2 separate regions of the Homo sapiens genome follow, and region 1 is linked to region 2. Evidence: fine-mapped expression QTL. Tissue or cell type: whole blood. Region 2 holds a variant in brackets; the other region holds the start of a gene. All regions are shown on one strand. Distances are from middle to middle. Region 1 holds the start of MYO7A (myosin VIIA). Region 2 overlaps MYO7A (myosin VIIA).

Evidence for each region. PIP is the estimated chance that this variant, and not a neighbour inherited with it, causes the effect.
Region 1: MYO7A starts here. The variant in region 2 is fine-mapped to the expression of MYO7A in whole blood (TOPMed, PIP above 0.99). The same link has a PIP of 0.9 or more in blood mononuclear cells, monocytes and monocytes after interferon gamma.

What each region holds. Positions count from the first base shown.
Region 1 is chr11:77,124,759-77,134,037 of GRCh38, forward strand. It overlaps MYO7A (myosin VIIA), which reads left to right and starts at 3,488. Exons shown (of 49, transcript NM_000260.4): 1 at 3,488-3,731; 2 at 5,831-5,894. The coding sequence starts at 5,877. It overlaps CAPN5 (calpain 5), which reads left to right. Exons shown (of 13, transcript NM_004055.5): 13 at 1-1,397. RefSeq lists enhancers at 2,174-2,896, 2,897-3,620, 4,343-5,066, 6,512-7,233.
Region 2 is chr11:77,170,639-77,179,918 of GRCh38, forward strand. It overlaps MYO7A (myosin VIIA), which reads left to right. Exons shown (of 49, transcript NM_000260.4): 16 at 2,110-2,247; 17 at 4,118-4,276; 18 at 4,734-4,826; 19 at 6,911-7,005; 20 at 8,407-8,491; 21 at 9,097-9,280. Among named protein-coding and RNA genes, the nearest start is that of MYO7A, 47 kb to the left of the region's middle. The variant G/C (reference allele first, on the strand shown) is at 4,622.

The DNA.
Region 1 (9,279 bases), 46 kb before region 2:
AGCCTCTCTGCTGTAAGACCCCAGCTTTTCCTGGAAGATGGGACTCTGGGGTGTGTGGTGCTCACCAGAGTCAGGCCACCCACTGGGCTCGGCAGGAGATAGGGAGCCCCATCACCTGACCACAGCCCCCCACCAACATTCCCCCAAAATGCAGCCTAGGAGGCCGCAGTGCTCTTCTTCCTGCCCAGACCAAAATGTTCCTTTTAGTCCTCAATGTTTTATATTCTTTTTGTTTTGAAAATCTCAATTTTAATCAGGGGTTTTAAAAGAAAATTGAAAGCCTGAACCTCCATTTTTCTTCTTGGCTCCAGTTTTGCTGGTCCTCTGGAGAACTCTTCGTGAGCACTGGTGCCGTGACCCACTTGGGATCTCTGCTGTGCCCTTCTCGGGCTTCCAGACCAGGTGTAGCAAATGAAAAAGTGCAGTTAATTCAAGAACAGGAATCCCTGTGTCCTTGCTGGGATTTCCTTTTGGGAACCTGACTTTCCGACTCCAGATCCTGCTGTCTGGATCAGTGTTCTGGCTGGAGGTGCTGGATTCTCTGATTTTGCCTCCTCACTCTGTGTCTGGCTTTGCTCCTGGGTCTTGGCCCTGGGCCATATGAGGGGCCAGGAAATGAACGACAAGGAGGATAAGAGTGTTCTTTCTTGAAAGCCGGGACTTCCCCTCAAGAACCTGGGCCTGGGGCCGGGACTCTGCATGACTGGGAGCAAGTCACTTAAACCTCCTGTGCCTCGATTTCCCCCTTCTACAAAGTGGGGCCAATGATTCTTGTGTGTCAGCACTGTTACTACCGAGTGCTGAGTAAGGGCAAAATAATACCCCTTTCTCTATGTATCTCTGTATGCACACGCACTATATATATATATATATATATATATACATTCATGTAATCACCACTTCTCGATGTCTATTTCAAATCAAGGCTCCTGAGTAGGGGGTGAAGTGAGCCAGCTTGCACCTCAGGCTAACACATAGGACTTTGCTCAGCCATGTCCCCTGGGATACAGGGGCACACCAGGACCAAGTGGCAGACCTGTGGGCTTCAGCCTCGGGGCCGGGGCATGCCTGCCACCCCCTGACAAAAACAGGTTCCACAGTGCTACCCTTGCTTCCTGCCCCTTGAGGTGGGCCAGGCTGGCTCCTGGCTATGCAGGGATCTCTGGTCCCCAGGAGACCTTGGGGGCCAGGCAGGTAAGGATCAGGGGTGATAGGGGAGAGCAATTACTTTGTTCACTGTATGCACCCGCGGGGGCCTGGGAGTCCCCATTTGCAGGTGGGTAGGGCCTCCAGCCCACACCACCCAGACCTAGGCTTCCCTCTTCTCAGGATCCACCACAGGGTTAGGGGACAGGAAGCCTGTTCTATTCTCAATAAATCTTACAAAATTCCAAAAAGACTTTCCTGTGTCCCTCTGTCCCCCTGGGGGGAAGGGACAATGGAGGAATATTCCCCAGGCCTGGGCGACTGTCCGCTGGTCAGAGGGAAGGCCCCGCTGCCTGCCCGGTGCACCTGTGAGCTGAGATTGTGGGGATCATTCAGTCATTCCTTTATTCAGTAGATCTGTACGGGGCTGGCTTTGTGCCAAGGCCTGCCCCGGGCACCTGGGATGTGGGGAACCAGGCATAGCAATCCCTGCTCTGGGACAGTCTACAAACGAGCAGCGAGAACAAAGACATACTCTGGTCATGACAGACACTACCCCGCACATTACTGATGGGGCAGTGTGGGCCTGCTGGGTTAGAGACGGCCTACTCCCTGATCTGTGCATGAAGGGCTGGGAAGAGGAGATGGGCCTTCGGGGCACAGGAAGGTGTGGGGGGACCAGAGCGGAGGCTGCTGAGGGCAGATGCAGGCATCTAGGGCCAGGAAGCTGGTGTGGTGGTGGGGAGAAGCAGGGTTGGGATGACTGAAAGCAGAGTGGACGACTCAATGAAAAACGACTTGGGAGACGGGGTGAGTGCAGTGTGAGGGCAAAGTGAACCGAGATGCCTCGCTTTCTTCATGGGACTGAGAAATGGGTATTGCAAATCGTGTGATCTGCTTAGCATAGTGCCTGGTTCATAGCATGGCTGAACACAATGTAGCTGTCATCCTGGTGTTTGGAGGCCGCCCTGTCCCCCATAACCTGCCCACCTCTCTGCCCCATTCCCACAGCTCACTGCATTTTGTCCCTGCTGCCAGTCGTGTGCCATGGGCTCTCCTGTGCTCCCCCGGGGTCTCATTTCCCCATCCGTGTAGGGCTGACGCCACTGGCCCCGCCCAGCCTGGGAGGATGGAGAGGGGGGACTTGAGGAGTGGCCAGTACTGGGTTTCGGCAGCAGGTGCAAATCCCAGGTGGGGACTGTGTTCCAGGGACTCCTGGACTCCTGTTAGGCCAGCAGGCTAAGGGGCAGACGGCATCCTGGGGTCTTCCTGGGACAGGGTCGTCGGGTCTGAGGGGACCCAGGCCCTAGCAGAAGCTGACTCCTGTCACGGTCACTTCCCAGCGGTGCTCAGCCCGCCTGACGGAAGCAGCTGGGCAGTGGGGCCTGTGACCAGCAGGCGGCGCTGGCGAGCTATAGCGCCCCTTTGGGCCCCCACCCCACCTTCTGGGCAGCTTCCCTGCAGACACCCCAGTTATGGGGGCTAGGGACCCAAAAGAGACATCCTTCTGCCACCCAGAGCTGCCCTGGCGAGGTGCACTATGGGGCCGCCGACAGCTGCGTGGCTGCCGAGGGCGGAAAGGAGAAACTGTCATGTCCCGATAGGGCCGCGCGAGGTCTCCATCCTCGACAACGCTAATAACAAAGACGTGTGCTCCTCTTTGCTTGGTTCCCCCCACTCCTTTAAATCACAGATTTCACTTCAGTTTATCTGTGTCGCTGTCACACGTGGGGTGGCTCCCAGTCAGCTGGTTTGGCAAAGTTTCTGGATGATTACGGAATAACATGTGTCCCCAACCCGCAGAGCAGGTTGTGGGGGCAATGTTGCATTGACCAGCGTCAGAGAACACACATCAGAGGCAAGGGTGGGTGTGCAGGAGGGAGAAGGCGCAGAAGGCAGGGCTTTAGCTCAGCACTCTCCCTCCTGCCATGCTCTGCCTGACCGTTCCCTCTCTGAGTCCCAAACAGCCAGGTAGAGGAGGAAGAAATGGGGCTGAGACCCCAGCACATCAGTGATTAAGTCAGGATCAGGTGCGGTTTCCTGCTCAGGTGCTGAGACAGCAGGCGGTGTCCTGCAAACAACAGGAGGCACCTGAAGCTAGCCTGGGGGGCCCACGCCCAGGTGCGGTGCATTCAGCAGCACAGCCAGAGACAGACCCCAATGACCCCGCCTCCCTGTCGGCAGCCAGTGCTCTGCACAGAGCCCTGAGCAGCCTCTGGACATTAGTCCCAGCCCCAGCACGGCCCGTCCCCCACGCTGATGTCACCGCACCCAGACCTTGGAGGCCCCCTCCGGCTCCGCCTCCTGGGAGAAGGCTCTGGAGTGAGGAGGGGAGGGCAGCAGTGCTGGCTGGACAGCTGCTCTGGGCAGGAGAGAGAGGGAGAGACAAGAGACACACACAGAGAGACGGCGAGGAAGGGAAAGACCCAGAGGGACGCCTAGAACGAGACTTGGAGCCAGACAGAGGAAGAGGGGACGTGTGTTTGCAGACTGGCTGGGCCCGTGACCCAGCTTCCTGAGTCCTCCGTGCAGGTGGCAGCTGTACCAGGCTGGCAGGTCACTGAGAGTGGGCAGCTGGGCCCCAGGTAAGGATGGGCTGCCCACTGTCCTGGGCATTGGGAGGGGTTTGGATGTGGAGGAGTCATGGACTTGAGCTACCTCTAGAGCCTCTGCCCCACAGCCACTTGCTCCTGGGACTGGGCTTCCTGCCACCCTTGAGGGCTCAGCCACCACAGCCACTGAATGAAACTGTCCCGAGCCTGGGAAGATGGATGTGTGTCCCCTGGAGGAGGGAAGAGCCAAGGAGCATGTTGTCCATCGAATCTTCTCTGAGCTGGGGCTGGGGTTAGTGGCATCCTGGGGCCAGGGGAATAGACATGCTGTGGTGGCAGAGAGAAGAGTCCGTTCTCTCTGTCTCCTTTGCTTTCTCTCTGACACTCTTTATCTCCGTTTTTGGATAAGTCACTTCCTTCCTCTATGCCCCAAATATCCCATCTGTGAAATGGGAGTATGAAGCCCCAACAGCCAGGGTTGTAGTGGGGAAGAGGTAAAATCAGGTATAGACATAGAAATACAAATACAGTCTATGCCCCCTGTTGTCAGTTGGAAAAGAAATTAACTTGAAGGTGGTCTAGTTCTCATTTTTAGAAATGAAATGTCTGTCTGGTCATTTTAAAATGTGGCCCTTAAATTTCACGCCCTCACCACTCTCCCCCATCCCTTGGAGCCCCATGTCTCTAGTGAAAGCACTGGCTCTGCCCCCAGCCCTCATGGCTCATGCTGGCATAGGGCGCCTGCTCCACAGCCTGGGCACCATCTTCAGACAAGTGCCCGGTGGCAACTGCCTGCTGGCCCTGTTGAATCCACATCTCCACCAGGCATCCAGACTAGTTCAGGTCTCTGGAAGGACTGTGGGTTTGCTGTGTCCCAGAGCTCCAGGGCAGGGGTCAGGGCTCGGATGTCGGGCAGTGTCATGGGCAGAGGATCGAATGCCCCGGCGGCTCTGAATGGGCCCTTGTGAAAAATTGATGCGCATTCTAGGAGACAGGTTGGGAGCCAGAGGGGCCTCATACCAGGGTCTGTAGGCTGGGGCTGCCTTTTAAGCTCCTTCCTGAGGCCGTCTCTGGGTCTGGCCCTGTGCTGGACAAGGCTGGAGACAAGGCAATGTCTCAGACCCTCTCCCATTGGCCACATCCTGCCCTGGATCAACTCGCCAACTTTGGGGGCAGAGGTGGGACTGACCCTTACCCTGACAACATAATGCATATAGTCAAAATGGGATAAAGGGGAATATAGAGGCTCTTGGCAGCTTGGGAGTGGTCAGGGAAGGCTTCCTGGAGGAGGTATCATCTGAACTGAGCCATGAACCATAAGTGGAAATTCACTAGTCAAAATTTCAGGTAGAAGGGCCAGTGTGTGAAGGCCAGGAGATGGCAAGAGCTGGCGTATTTCAGGAACAGTGAGTCACTGAGGATGTCCAAGTATAAGGGTAGGAAAGGGAGTGAGCAGTGAGAGAAAAGACCGAGGCATCAGCAGGGGCCAGATTGTGCTGGGCCTAGCGGGGCGGGCCCGGGCCCGGGCCCAGGCCCAGGTGCGGTGCATTCAGCAGCACAGCCAGAGACAGACCCCAATGACCCTGCCTCCCCGTCAGCAGCCAGTGCTCTGCACAGAGCCATCCTGAGGGCAGTGGGTGCTCTTGAGAGGTTTCAGGCAGGGTGTGCTGTGAGCAGGTCATGCCCAGCCCTTGACCTTCTGCTCAGTCAGGCTTGTCCTTGTCACCCACATTCCTGGGGCAGTCCCTAAGCTGAGTGCCGGAGATTAAGTCCTAGTCCTAAATTTGCTCTGGCTAGCTGTGTGACCCTGGGCAAGTCTTGGTCCCTCTCTGGGCCCCTTTGCCGTAGGTCCCTGGTGGGGCCAGACTTGCTACTTTCTAGGAGCCCTTTGGGAATCTCTGAATGACAGTGGCTGAGAGAAGAATTCAGCTGCTCTGGGCAGTGGTGCTGGTGACAGTGGCTGAGGCTCAGGTCACACAGGCTGGGCAGTGGTCAGAGGGAGAGAAGCCAAGGAGGGTTCCCTTGAGGGAGGAGGAGCTGGGGCTTTGGGAGGAGCCCAGGTGACCCCAGCCAGGCTCAAGGCTTCCAGGGCTGGCCTGCCCAGAAGCATGACATGGTCTCTCTCCCTGCAGAACTGTGCCTGGCCCAGTGGGCAGCAGGAGCTCCTGACTTGGGACCATGGTGATTCTTCAGCAGGTCAGTGTTCCCACCTCTTTGGGTGGCCTGTCCTCCCCAGGCCATATCCCCTCATCCATATGCTTACCCGTGGGACACCCTCCCCAGGGTGTTCTCTTGGAAAATTCCTGCCTAGGCTTCCAAACCCAGCCCTCCAGGCTGAGGCCTAGTCTGAAACCTGTTCCCTCTGCTGTGCCAGCTGGGGTTTCCTTCTCTCACTGGCTCACCCCACTGGGCAGAAATGAGTTTATTTACACACATCTCTGGATCCCAGGCAGTGGAACAGCATGTGCAAAGGCCCAGGTGTGGGAAGGTCCCTGGGGAAGAGGAGAGGAGGTTGGCAAGGCTCCCAAAGCCAGGCCAGGAAGGGCCCTGAGCCCAACTTATTCTTAGGGCCTTGGGGAGCAGTGACTGGAGGGCGGGGGGTGACAAGGCTTGAGCTGGAGCCCCCTGGGATTTTATGGGAAGAAGCAGAGGTGCTGGCCCGAGCTGAGTCCTCCAGCCCCCCTTCCTACTGAGGGCCACAGTGGCCTCTGACCCTCAGCCCTTCCCCGTGATCAGTCTGAGGCTCTAATGAGCTCCTGGCCTCCAGAGCAGGAGCCAGGAATGTGGGCCCTGAGCCAGGTGGGCCTGGCAGCAGGCCGTAGGGCTTGTGGGGCTGTGCATTATGGGGGCTTGGCCAGCAGCTTCTCGGTCTCCAGGGTCACCAGAGGCCAATGGCTCAGCCTTGCCTGGCCACCCTGAGGCTGCACGGACCAGCATGTTTGCATATGAGTGCGTGCGCGTGTGTGTGTCTGTGTGTGTGAGTGAGAGGCAGGCTTCAGGGCAGCATCAGGACAGACATTCTTCTATCCCAGGGGCTGGAGGAGACCCCCTTTAGAGCCCCTTGGCCTGAGAGCCTGTTCAAACGCCCATTAGAGATGGGCAGGATCTAGGAGAGGAAAAGTCCATTCGCTGAGTGTTTGCTGTGTGCCAGGGCCTGGGCCCCCATAGCCCTCCAGGGGCGTCCTCCCTCAGGGGGCCTCTGAGGCAGGCCTCTGGCTGATGGGACCTCCTCACCACCCCCTCCTCTCCTGCCCCTCTGAACGCTGACCCACCTCCAGCTGTGGGTGGCCTCTGTTGGGAGCAAGTGTCTTGTAGGTGAATGCCTGTTCTGCCTGCCCTCAAGCAGGAAGTACACTCAGCTCCTTCCTTGGTCCTGAAGAAAGCCCCAGCCCTGGGGAACCGGCCAGCTCTGCAGTTGCACAGGCCGGGCCTAATGGGCTCCAGCCCAGGCTTTGCTATTGATGAGTGGGAGGGCCTTGGGCACGTTACTCAGCCTTCCTGAGCCTCAGTTTCCTCATATGTAAAATGAAGATTAAAAGCCTCTTTTCCCACAGCTGCCGATGAGAGGCTAAAATGCCATGTGGAGCTCCATGAAAATGCTTCTTCCTTCCTCTGCTTCCCTGGTCTGCCCTCTCCTCCTCTCTTCCTGCCACATCCTTCCCGGTCCTGAAAGGTCCACGGAGTGCTTGGCTTCCCCTCTTGCCTGGCTGACTTCTGCTCAGGCTTCAGTGTAGCCTCTACTTCCTTCGGGAGGCTTCCCTGCTCTGCAAACCCCAGGGCCTGGTCCACAGTCCTCCTCCTTTCTCTGCCTACCTGGGGCTTCCTGATGAGCCCTGGACATGAGGGACAGCCTTCATCCCATTTCCCGTGGATCTTTCAGGATAGGGAAGGAACTGGCAGGAAGAGAGGAGGAGAGAGGCAGTCCAGGGAAGCAGATGAAGGAAGAAGCATTTTCATGGAGTCCCAAATGGCATTTTAGCTTCACAATGGCAGCTGTGGGAAAACAGGGGTTTTGTTTGTTTGTTTGTTTGTTTGTGTGTGTGTTTGTTTTGAGACAGAGTCTTGCTTTGTCACCAGGCTGAAGTGCTATGGCATGATTTTGGCTCACTGCAACCTTCGACTCCCTGGTTCAAGCAATTCTCCTGCCTCAGCCTCCTGAGTAGCTGGGATTACAGGCACCCGTCACCACGTCCAACTAATTTTTGTATTTTTAATAAAGACGGGGTTTCACCATGTTGGCCAGGATGGTCTTGATCTCCTGACCTCGTGATCCGCCCACCTCGGCCTCCCAAAGTACTGGGATTACAGGCGTGAGCCACCGCACCAGGTGGATAGAGGTTTTTAATCTGCATTTTGCATATGATGAAACAGGCTCAGGAAGGCTGAGTAATGTGCCCAAGGCCCTCTTACTCAACAGCAAAGCACAAGATGGAGCCCACTGGGCCCGGCCTGTGGAACTGCAGAGCGGGTCGGCTCCCGGGGCTCGGGTTCTTTTTAGGACCAAGGAAGCAGCTGAAGCATACTTCCTGCTTGAAGGCAGGAGGAGCAGGCATTCACCTACTATTCCCTGCCCTGGAGGAGTTCCCAGACCTATGTGGGGAGACAGCTTAGAAACCTAGGAAAGGCACTGTGACAGTGAGTCTCCAGGGGGCACGGGGATGAGAGGGCACCTGGGAATGGGAGAGCCTTCTGCCCTCCCTGGGAGAGGGTGGACAGGGAAGGCCATGAGACAGCTGCAGCAGCCTCTCATGAACATACAGGGACTGAGGTCTCTGGAAGAAGGACTAGCCCAGCTGACTAGTGGCGCACCTGTGTGGCACACCTGACTCACATCTTTAAGGACCACAAGGAGGGCTTTTGTGCTTCAGTATGTCATGATTCCCAGCTTCATGGTGGTGCCAGGGTAGGGACTCTGTGTACTTGGCCCAGATTTGTGGGCAGAGGGAGGTTTGAAGATAAATTTGTGGGCTGTTGATAACAGTTGGATTGATGCTTTTAGTAAAATATAATGTCCTTCTTTGTTTCTTGTAATGATTTTGACTTAACATCTATGTCTGATAGTGTAGTCATCTCAACTGTCTTTTGGTTACTATTTGCATGGAATACTATTTGCATGAAATCCTTCTACTTTTAACCTATTTGTGTCTTTGGATCTAAAGTGGATCTCTTGTAAGCAGCATATAGTTAGATCATGTGGTTGGTTTTTGTTTTGTTTTGTTTTTATCCATTCTGCCAGTCTTTACCTTTTGGTTGGAGAGTTTAATCTATTTACACATGAAGTAATTACTGTTAAGGAAGGACCTCTGCCATTTTGCTATGTTTTCTGTATGTCTTATATCTTTTCCTCCTCAATTCCTCATTACTGCTCTTTTGTGTTTAATTGACATTTTTTTCTAAAGTACTGTTTTGATTCTCATTTACTCTTCTGTGTATTTTAAAAGTTTTTTCCTCAATGATTATTCTTAGGTTTACAAATAACATCTTTTTTTTGAGATGGAGTTTCACTCTTGTAGCCCATGCTGGAGTGCAATGACACAATCTCGGCCCACTGCAACCTCTGCCTCCTGGGTTCAAGCAATTC
Region 2 (9,280 bases):
GGGTGGCCACGCTGGTGAGACAGGTGTGGCTCTCGGCTGTCCCACTCTTTCCTCTTCACTAACTCCCCAGTCCCAGGGGAGGTTGGCCTGGAATGTGGGGGATGGAAGCAAAGAGACGAGTTGGGGGGTTGCTGCAGGAATTTGAGAGCAATGCTGGTGGCTGGGACCAGGCTGACGGTGGAGGAAGTGGTGAGGGGTCAGGTTCTGGAGATATTTTGAAAGTAGAGCCTGTAGGATTTGCGGATATATTAGATGTGACAGAAGAGGCACTGAGGACAGTTGCTAGATGTTTGGCTGGAGCAACGGGAAGGTGGGCAATTTCTGTGAACCCATGGATGTCACTAGGAACCAGTTCAACAGCACTTCAGTAGATCAAAGTGTTGACTGTTACTTGTGTCATGTAGGCCCTGGCCATGCAGCAATAAAGAGGCAGACGCATCCTGTCCTCATGGGGCTCCCAGCCCAGCAGGGAGGACGGGCAGAAAGCAGTCGTTTTATTGTGATGACCAAGACCAAAGAAGGGTGTGCGTGCGCGTGTGTGTACACGCGGTGGTATGCGTGTGCTCCTAGTGGCGTGTGTATGTGCATGCTGAGGTTGTGTGTGTGTTGTGTGTGTGTGTGTGTGCATGCGTATGCGTGTACTCATGTCAGGGGCCCTAATGCAGGCTGGGTACAGCCCAACTTGGACAGCTCCCCTCCAGTGACCGGGGTCACCCGGTGCTGCTGCTGGATCAAATTGAGGACAACGCCAGGGGCCACAGATCTGACCACCACCCTACCGCATTGCAAATACTCCCCAGCTTCTCTGGGCAAAGTCCTAGAATATATTCCAAATACAATGCAGTTGGAAAGCATTGCAGATTTCAGAATCGCAGGCACTGGCTCTTTCTCGGAAGGCCTCATCACAGTCTGGTGGCATAGTACCTAAATTGAGTATGAGCACAACACCTTTGTCCCCCCAAATACCTCACATATCTACATCTACACCCCTGGTTTTTGATGCTACAGGATATCAGATGAAATGATGACTCTAAAAATATAAAAATCTTGCAATATTAATCAAATGAAGTCAAGTAAAATAAGAAATTCTCAACCAAATGAAAATTGCCAGGAAAACACTAATCAAGATGCTTTGGAACAAAACCTAAGCTCTGTGTCCAGTTCCCATCAGTCCTGCCATTTGGCTTCCTGTTTGTTTGCGGCTCAGGGCTTCCCCCACCTCATTTCACAGTATTCTCAGAGGGGACCCCAGTAGGGCAGGGAGGCGCAGGGGGCTCGCTGGCTGCCAGGATCGCCCAGGTGTGGCTGGTGGAGCACAGAACCCCTGGCTGCGTCGGAGCCACAGTGCGGGGGGTTAGGAGGAGGCTGCTTGTGTGCCTTCTTAGGAGGATTAGCCAGGCCTGCCCCGCCCCCAGCCTGCTGCTGCCGGCTAAGCCTGGGAGGGGAGAGGTCACCGGCAGCTCCCGCCCCTCCTCCTCGCGCTTGCCCACAGGTTTCCAGAAGGCGGCACCACCTTTCTAGGTTGCTGTTTACTGAAATATGCCCTGACCTCTGACCCTTGTCACAGCCTGGTCAGATGGATAGATGGCATCACCTCCACTTAGGAAACTGAGGCTCTGCAACATTTAGTGACCTGCCCAAGGGCACACAGCTAGGAAGTGGTGGGCCAGGGCTTGAATCTAGGTTCGTCTAACCCCTGTCTCTAGAGATGACCTCAGTGTCCTGAGGTGACCAAGTCCGATTACTCCTTTATACAGGGAAGGGAGGGATGAGACTCAGGGGCTGCCCCTTGCTCAGAGTTATCCAGCGCACCAGGTGCAGGGGCAGGCTTGAGACTCCCAGTGCGGAGATCTTCCTGTAGGGTTCACTTCCCCCTCGCCCAGAGGTGGTAACTTTGGAAGTCCTGGGAGGCTTCCTGGAGGAGGTATCTGGAGTCCAGGCTCCAGCTCAGAAGGTGGGGAGAGGCAGTTTGCAGGAAAACTTCAAATACCGCCCTGTCCCTCAAACCCTGACCCCGCTGACCTCCCCTCCCGCTTCCTACTGGGCGGCTCCTGGGACACTGGATGGGGCAGGCACAGCCCCTCCCATCGCTGCCGTCCGTCCCCCCAGGGCGCCGAGACCAGGAAGCGCTCGCCCACACTTAGCAGCCAGTTCAAGCGGTCACTGGAGCTGCTGATGCGCACGCTGGGTGCCTGCCAGCCCTTCTTTGTGCGATGCATCAAGCCCAATGAGTTCAAGAAGCCCATGGTGAGTGGCCCTGGCCTGGGGTTGGCGGGTGGCGGCTAGGGTGACGTGGAGGAGCTAGGTCAAGAATAAGGTAGGGTGGGAGTGAAGGATGTGAGACTTTGTCCCTTTGGGGAATGGGGGGCACCCCGGGAGCTTACAAAACAAGGCCCCCTATTTATTGGAGGCAGCAGGTGCCTTGGAAAGAGCCTAGACTCTGCGGGGGGTTGCAGCAGGTTCAGATCCTGCCTCTACCATGTACAAGTGGGCGACTGCAGACAAAGCAGTTTCTTCTCTTATGCCTCAGTTTCCTCATAGATGGAAACGGGACTGACCGTATCTACCTCCTAAGGCTATTCCATGCAGTAATGCTTGCAGATGCCCACACCCAGCAAGTGCCCAGTGATTGGCAGCTGTGGTTCTTGCTGGGGCTGCTTCTTTGAAAGTCCCCTTCTCCTTTGGCCCAGCTCAACCACCACCTCCTCCTGGAAGCCTCCCCCATCTCTTCAGCTGGTTGGGATATCCTCATTCTTGACTTTTCTGAATAACATTTGTTGGGCCCTTTCTGTGTGCCCAGCATAGGCTGGATGGTCAGTCCACAGCCTCCTTCAACCTTCTCAAACAGCCCGTGAGAAAGGGACTGTGCTGGTCCCAGGTTAGAGATGCGGGACTGGGGGCTCAGGGAGGTTAAGGGGCTCAGGCTGGGGCCACCTCGCTGCGAGCCCTCTCCTTTCGCAGCACAGGCTCTGGGAGGGTTGTTTACCCAGAGGCCTGCAGGGAGGCACAGGGGGAAGCTGGGGCCTCGGGATCTGGGGAGGGAAGGAAGGCCGGGGAAAGTGGCCCGGAGAGAGAGGAAACAGTCTCCGGAAGCTGACAGGCTGCAAGACCGTCCCCTCCTGCTGCCTCCTGCCTGGAAAACATGTCCCAGAGTGGATGAGGCCTGTCCCCTTTAGGACTCAGGTCTGCAGGGGCCTGAGGGTCGCAGAGGGCTCCAGTGAGCTCTCCCTCTAATGCAGGGGGTGCAGGGGACTGACACCAGGGCAGTCGGGCACAGTCTTCCCTGGCTCTGAAGTGGGACCCTTCCCTCGGCCCAGTCCTCAGCATCTGTGGACTGGGCCTTGGCAATAGCCTCCTCAAGGGTCTCCTGCCTCCCTTGCCTCCTGTCCTGCCTCCCCTGGCCCCCAGTGACATTGTTCTCAAATGCAGACCTGGCCCAGTCTCTCCCTGCTCTAAAACTTCCCTGGCTTCCAGCATCCATGGATGAGGCCCTCACAGAGCCCCACAGCCTCACAGCCCAGCACCTGCCTTCTACTCTTTCTCCCCAGCCCCTCCACCAACCAAACCCCAGGGCCCTTTGAAAAATGTGCCTCTTCCTTAAGGCAGCTAGAAAGTTGTCTGAATAACCGCAGATCTACAATACCTGCAACGTGAAAGGTCCTCCCTGGGGCTGTGCAGAGCACCCCTCACCTGCACAGCCATAACTTGGCCTGGACGAGCCTCTCTAGCTCCCTCAAGATTCCCAGCAAAGTCCTGCGCTTTCAGGCTTCCAAACCTTTGCACAGGCTCACCCCCTCCAGCCTTGGAATACTCCCCCTCCTGTCAGGGTTAGGGTGATAAAGACGCCTCCTCCATGAAGCTCCCCACTTGGGTGTCCCAAGGGGAATTAATCTGTCTTCTCTGTGCTCCCAAAGCACACAGCTCCACCACGACAGGCCTCACTTTATGCTCTTTTGTGGATTTGAGCTGCAGATCCCGGTGCCTGTCCCAGCTTTGCTCCTCCCATGCCGTGTGGACTTGGCCTTTCTGAGCCTTTGTCTGGGTTGGTCAAGTGCACAGCAGGGCTGCCTCCCAGCAGGAGCCTTGGCCCTGATGCCCTTGGCTGTGTGCCTGGCAGCTGTTCGACCGGCACCTGTGCGTGCGCCAGCTGCGGTACTCAGGAATGATGGAGACCATCCGAATCCGCCGAGCTGGCTACCCCATCCGCTACAGCTTCGTAGAGTTTGTGGAGCGGTACCGTGTGCTGCTGCCAGGTGTGAAGCCGGCCTACAAGCAGGTACAGGGCTGAGTGCACAGAGGGCAGGAGGGGAGGGTCCCAGCTTTGGCTGGGCAAGGGTCCCAATTTTCTTATCAGGACCATGGGCGGGGCTTGACATCTGCTTGACCTCTCAGGTGCAGCACGGAAAATTGGGGTTCAGGTATTGGAATGCATCAGTGGGCTTCAGTTGCCATGTTCAGCTGGTGAGGACTTCACACATGGTGGTGTAAGGAACAAGACCAGGGCTGCCACGCGGGCCCTGGATGTCAGTTGTGAGAAAGGGTTTTGCAATCATACCATCCAGCTGAGCTAAGGAGAAAACTGGGGCTCAGAGAAGGCAGGACCCAGCTGAGGTCACACTTC[G/C]AGTCAGGGGCAGAGCTCGGGAAGAGCCCTGCCTCTCAGCCTCGGGGACACTCCGGAGGCCTTCCCACTGGAGAGGCTGTCCATTCCCTTGTGTTCCCCATCCTCACTCCAGGGCGACCTCCGCGGGACTTGCCAGCGCATGGCTGAGGCTGTGCTGGGCACCCACGATGACTGGCAGATAGGCAAAACCAAGATCTTTCTGAAGGTGAGCACAGATGCCTTCCCTGGGCTGCCCTGGGGGGGCTGTAAATTCCCATGATGTGGGCTGGGGTGCTCGGGAGAGGGAGGCAGTGCTGGGGCTTTGAGATCCTTTCTGCCGGGCTGTGGTGTGGCTGGAGGAGCAGGTGGGATCTGGCCTCTCTGGTGGGGAAGGGTAATTTGGTGTTTGAGATCATCTACAACCTGGGAGTGGGGTCAGAGCACTGACCACAGGTTACAAAGCACATGCCAGGGGCGGGCTGGCTGTTAGGCCCACAGCAGGGAGGCAGGGGTGCTGCTTGCCTTGGGGCCCTTTCTGAGCCTCATTTTCCCATCTGTAAATTGGGGTGTGCCTGTGTGGGGTCTCTTGAGTGTATCTTTAGGTTCCTTCCTGTGGTTTCCTGCCTGGCAGGGCCCATCCCGTGCTGGGGTCCGCAGCATGCCACCTGTCCGTCACTCTGTAGGGAGCTCAGCTCCCATTGCTGCCTGGGCAGCTGGGGAAGGAAGCAGGAAGCAAGGCCTGCGGGAGTCGCGGAGTCACAGCCTTGGAGACATGGCTGGGAGCTGGCAGTGGCAGGGCAGCCGCAGCAGGGACAGTGCGAGCTCCCAGTGCTGGGCTTCCCCATTTGCATTTCCGCTGTGCTAGATTTCTGGCTGTCCCGGATGACAGGGCTCCTTCCTCTGGTGTGGGGGGTGGGGCCTGGGCACTCCAAGGACAGCTGCAGGAGGGACAAGAACCAGCTCCGAACTGGAGGGAGCCTGCGGCCTCTTCTAATTCCTCTCCAGCCAAGGGGCTTCAGGCTAGGCCCTTTCTCTCCTTGCACCTGCATTTCCTCATCAGCAAGATGTGATGAATGTTCCCTGCCTGTGCCTCCCACAGCTGTCAGCCAGAAAGCACATTCCATGTGCCAGGCCCTGGGTGGGTGCTTTTCATCCATGAGCTCATTTAATCCTTGAAACAGTCCTGTGGAGAAGGAAATATTATACCCATTTCACAGGCTCAGAGAGAAGTGAGTTGCCTGAAACCAGGCAGCTAGGAAGCAGGGAGCAGGACTTCTAGTCTGGGAAGGTCTGATGCCCAGCCCCTGTGTGGGCAAAGTGGGGAAGGCAGGAATCATGATGGCATCTAGTACCAGGGAACTCGGAGGAGCTCCATCAGCCCCTGACTTACACTGCTAGGCTCTTCCGATATGGCCTTGGTTTTGAGAGGCCAAACATGCTCATTCATCCATTCATTCATTCAGAATGCCTCGGCTGAGCATCTCCTCTGTCAGGGCCCTGTGTGTCTGTGATTATCTGATGGATTTGGCTCCCTCATGAGACTCTACCCTCCCCAAGGGCAGGGGCCATGTCTCCCTGGTTCATTGTGGCAGCCCCTCCCCTCCCCAGCATCTAGCACAGTGCCAGCACATGGAGGTGTTCAATTCATATATATTAAGTGAACCAATGAAGTTTTGTCCAACTACAGTGAGGGTTGGGGTCTTGGATGAGGAGGAGAGAGGGCTGAAAAAGTTGGCAGACACCCTGGATCATGGGTGGCCTTGAATGCCAGGGTGAGGAACCCAGGCTCGACGTGGGGAACCATGAGGTGTCACTGTAGGGTCACCATCCAGGTTGTGTTGAGGAGGGTCCCTCTGGCTGCTTGTGAAGGAGCGCCAGAGAGGGAGCCAGGAGGCCGCGAGACCTTTAGTTAGGAGGCTGCTGCCAAGGTTCGGGAGAAGAATGGCAACAGCCCAGCCCAGGTGAGGGACTGATGTGACAGGGACGTCTAGAAGCAGGGGGCTTGGGCAGATTGACGATAGGGAAGAAGCTGGTGTGTGTGCATACTGGGCCTTCCGACCCCATCCAGAGAGATTAGGCACCTTCTGCTCCATTTGTCCTGCCTGGACCTCTGGGAAACAGCCACAACCCCTGTCTGTCCTGGTGGCTGTGGGAGGCTGCCCCAGGGGCCAGAGCCAGCTGGGAGCTCATGGGGCCCAACTGAGTTCTTGACCTGTGCTCCCAGTGAAGGAAGAGCAGCCCCCACTGGGACTGAGCAGGTGGTCCTAGAGGAGACCTTGTGGGGCGCTGCTCAGGAGCTCTGCCTCCTAGGACCACCATGACATGCTGCTGGAAGTGGAGCGGGACAAAGCCATCACCGACAGAGTCATCCTCCTTCAGAAAGTCATCCGGGGATTCAAAGACAGGTGCGTGTTCCCACCAGCTCCTCCCCTCCTCAGCCCACATACAGGTGTACGTGTGGTGTTTGGCTCTCCTCTGCTCTGCCCGCATGAACACTAGGAAAAAAACGTGTTCACCTATGAAACAAGTGCACACATGCATGGCATGCACACATGATCATGTAAACACAGAGGAACATAGATACATGATTTACATGGACCCATTGTGCCACGTAAGCCAAATAATGCAATACATTCACCTACATATGCACATGCACACGTAGATACATGAGACTCACATGTGGACCCACTGTTCATGTCAGATGCTGATGAAATTTTGCAAAGAGGAAATTTGAGATTTTATAAATTATTAATACAAAATGTGTCTCATATTCTATCTAAGGGATATGTGTACACGTGACAATTCACAAATGTGCAGGACTGACTCCAAAGTGTGATTAAAGCTCTGCAAAAATTCCACAATGCACCCCTTTGCAGTTCATATGGTCACTCTCTCCCTTCTTCCACTCGTCCACCCACCTACCTATCCATCCGTCCGTTCACCCACCCACCTACCCATCCATCCATCCATCCATCTGCCCACCTATTCACCCATCCATCCATCCATCCATCCACCCGCCCACACACCCACCTAGTCACTCATCCATCCACCTATCCACCCACACATTCATCCATCAATTCACCCACCAACCCATCCACCATCCATCCATCCACCCACCCACCCATCCATTCACTCATCAGTCCACCCACCCATCCACCTACCCATTCATTCCTCCATTCATCCATTCACCCACCCACTCCCACAGTTGCTCATTTGCTTATGTGTGTCTCCAAGCATTGACTTATTGGCTCACTTGCATACTTGCACACCCATCCTTCGCTCTTCCTTTATTTATTTCTACATTCAGCAGACCCCTGCTGTCTGTGCATGGTCTCTGTCCTCTATCAGGCTGAAGATGACTGTTCTCCTATAGAAGCAGCCTGCTGTGTGCAGGGGGAACAGCACTGGGCTCACTTAGGGTCAGTCAGAAGACATGGGCTCTAGTCCCAACCTATCAAGTCTCAGTTGCCTCATGTATAAACTGAGGAAGTTAGACTGTTCAAAGCTTTTGATCTTTATATTATTTTAATTACTTATTTTTTCATACATTTATTCATTCAACAAATACCTTTTGAATGTCTACCTTCATGGGCTTATGTGACAGGCCTGTGGGGCAGGCAGGGCAGGCATTATTCTACACATTGTACGGATGAGGAAGCTGAGGCACAGAAGTTATGTGCCTTGCCCAAGGTCATATAGCTAGGAAGTCACAGAGCTGGGACTCAGCGTGCCCTCCTGATCCCAAACCCACCTGTACCCTGGCTGCCTCTGGACACTGCTCACCCGCGCCACTACTGCTGTTTCAGGTCTAACTTTCTGAAGCTGAAGAACGCTGCCACACTGATCCAGAGGCACTGGCGGGGTCACAACTGTAGGAAGAACTACGGGCTGGTGAGCCTCCCCATGGGCTGCTCTTGCCCAAACAGGCCTTTGAACCCAGCCTTGCTGCCATGGCAGTGGGACTGGCCTGCACCCAGGCAGCACAGCCTGGCCTCGTTGGCCTCCTGCCACTGCCCTGGCCAGCCACTACCATTCCTCCAGACCGAAGTCTGGATCTGGCTCTTGTGGCTTCTTCCAACTGGCCAGCAATGTTTGTTGCTCTCCTTCTGGAGTGTTTTTGGGGGTTGGGAGCACTCTGGGATTATTAGAGATCTCAGACAGGGTGAGAGTGGCTGGGTCACATGGACCTCTGTGCAGCAGCTGGGCTTAGGACTTGTTGGGGCTGGATGGGAAGCAGACTGGTTGGTTGCAGCTCCTGATCTAGGATTCTCTTGGGGGCCCCAACTCAGGGAGAGTCAAGGTCACCTAAAAATATGTTGCCTGAGAGGAAACAGAACTTTCTAACGATGGGGGGGCACTAATCTGAGAGGAGACTGGGCCACGCCTTCTGGGGGTGCCTGTCTGAGAGTGGAGGCCGGTGCCATGGAAGCTCCTGCAGGCAGGGTCAGTCTGGAATGGGACAGCAGGCTCTGAGCATGGGGTGGCTGTCCTTGCAGATGCGTCTGGGCTTCCTGCGGCTGCAGGCCCTGCACCGCTCCCGGAAGCTGCACCAGCAGTACCGCCTGGCCCGCCAGCGCATCATCCAGTTCCAGGCCCGCTGCCGCGCCTATCTGGTGCGCAAGGCCTTCCGCCACCGCCTCTGGGCTGTGCTCACCGTGCAGGCCTATGCCCGGGGCATGA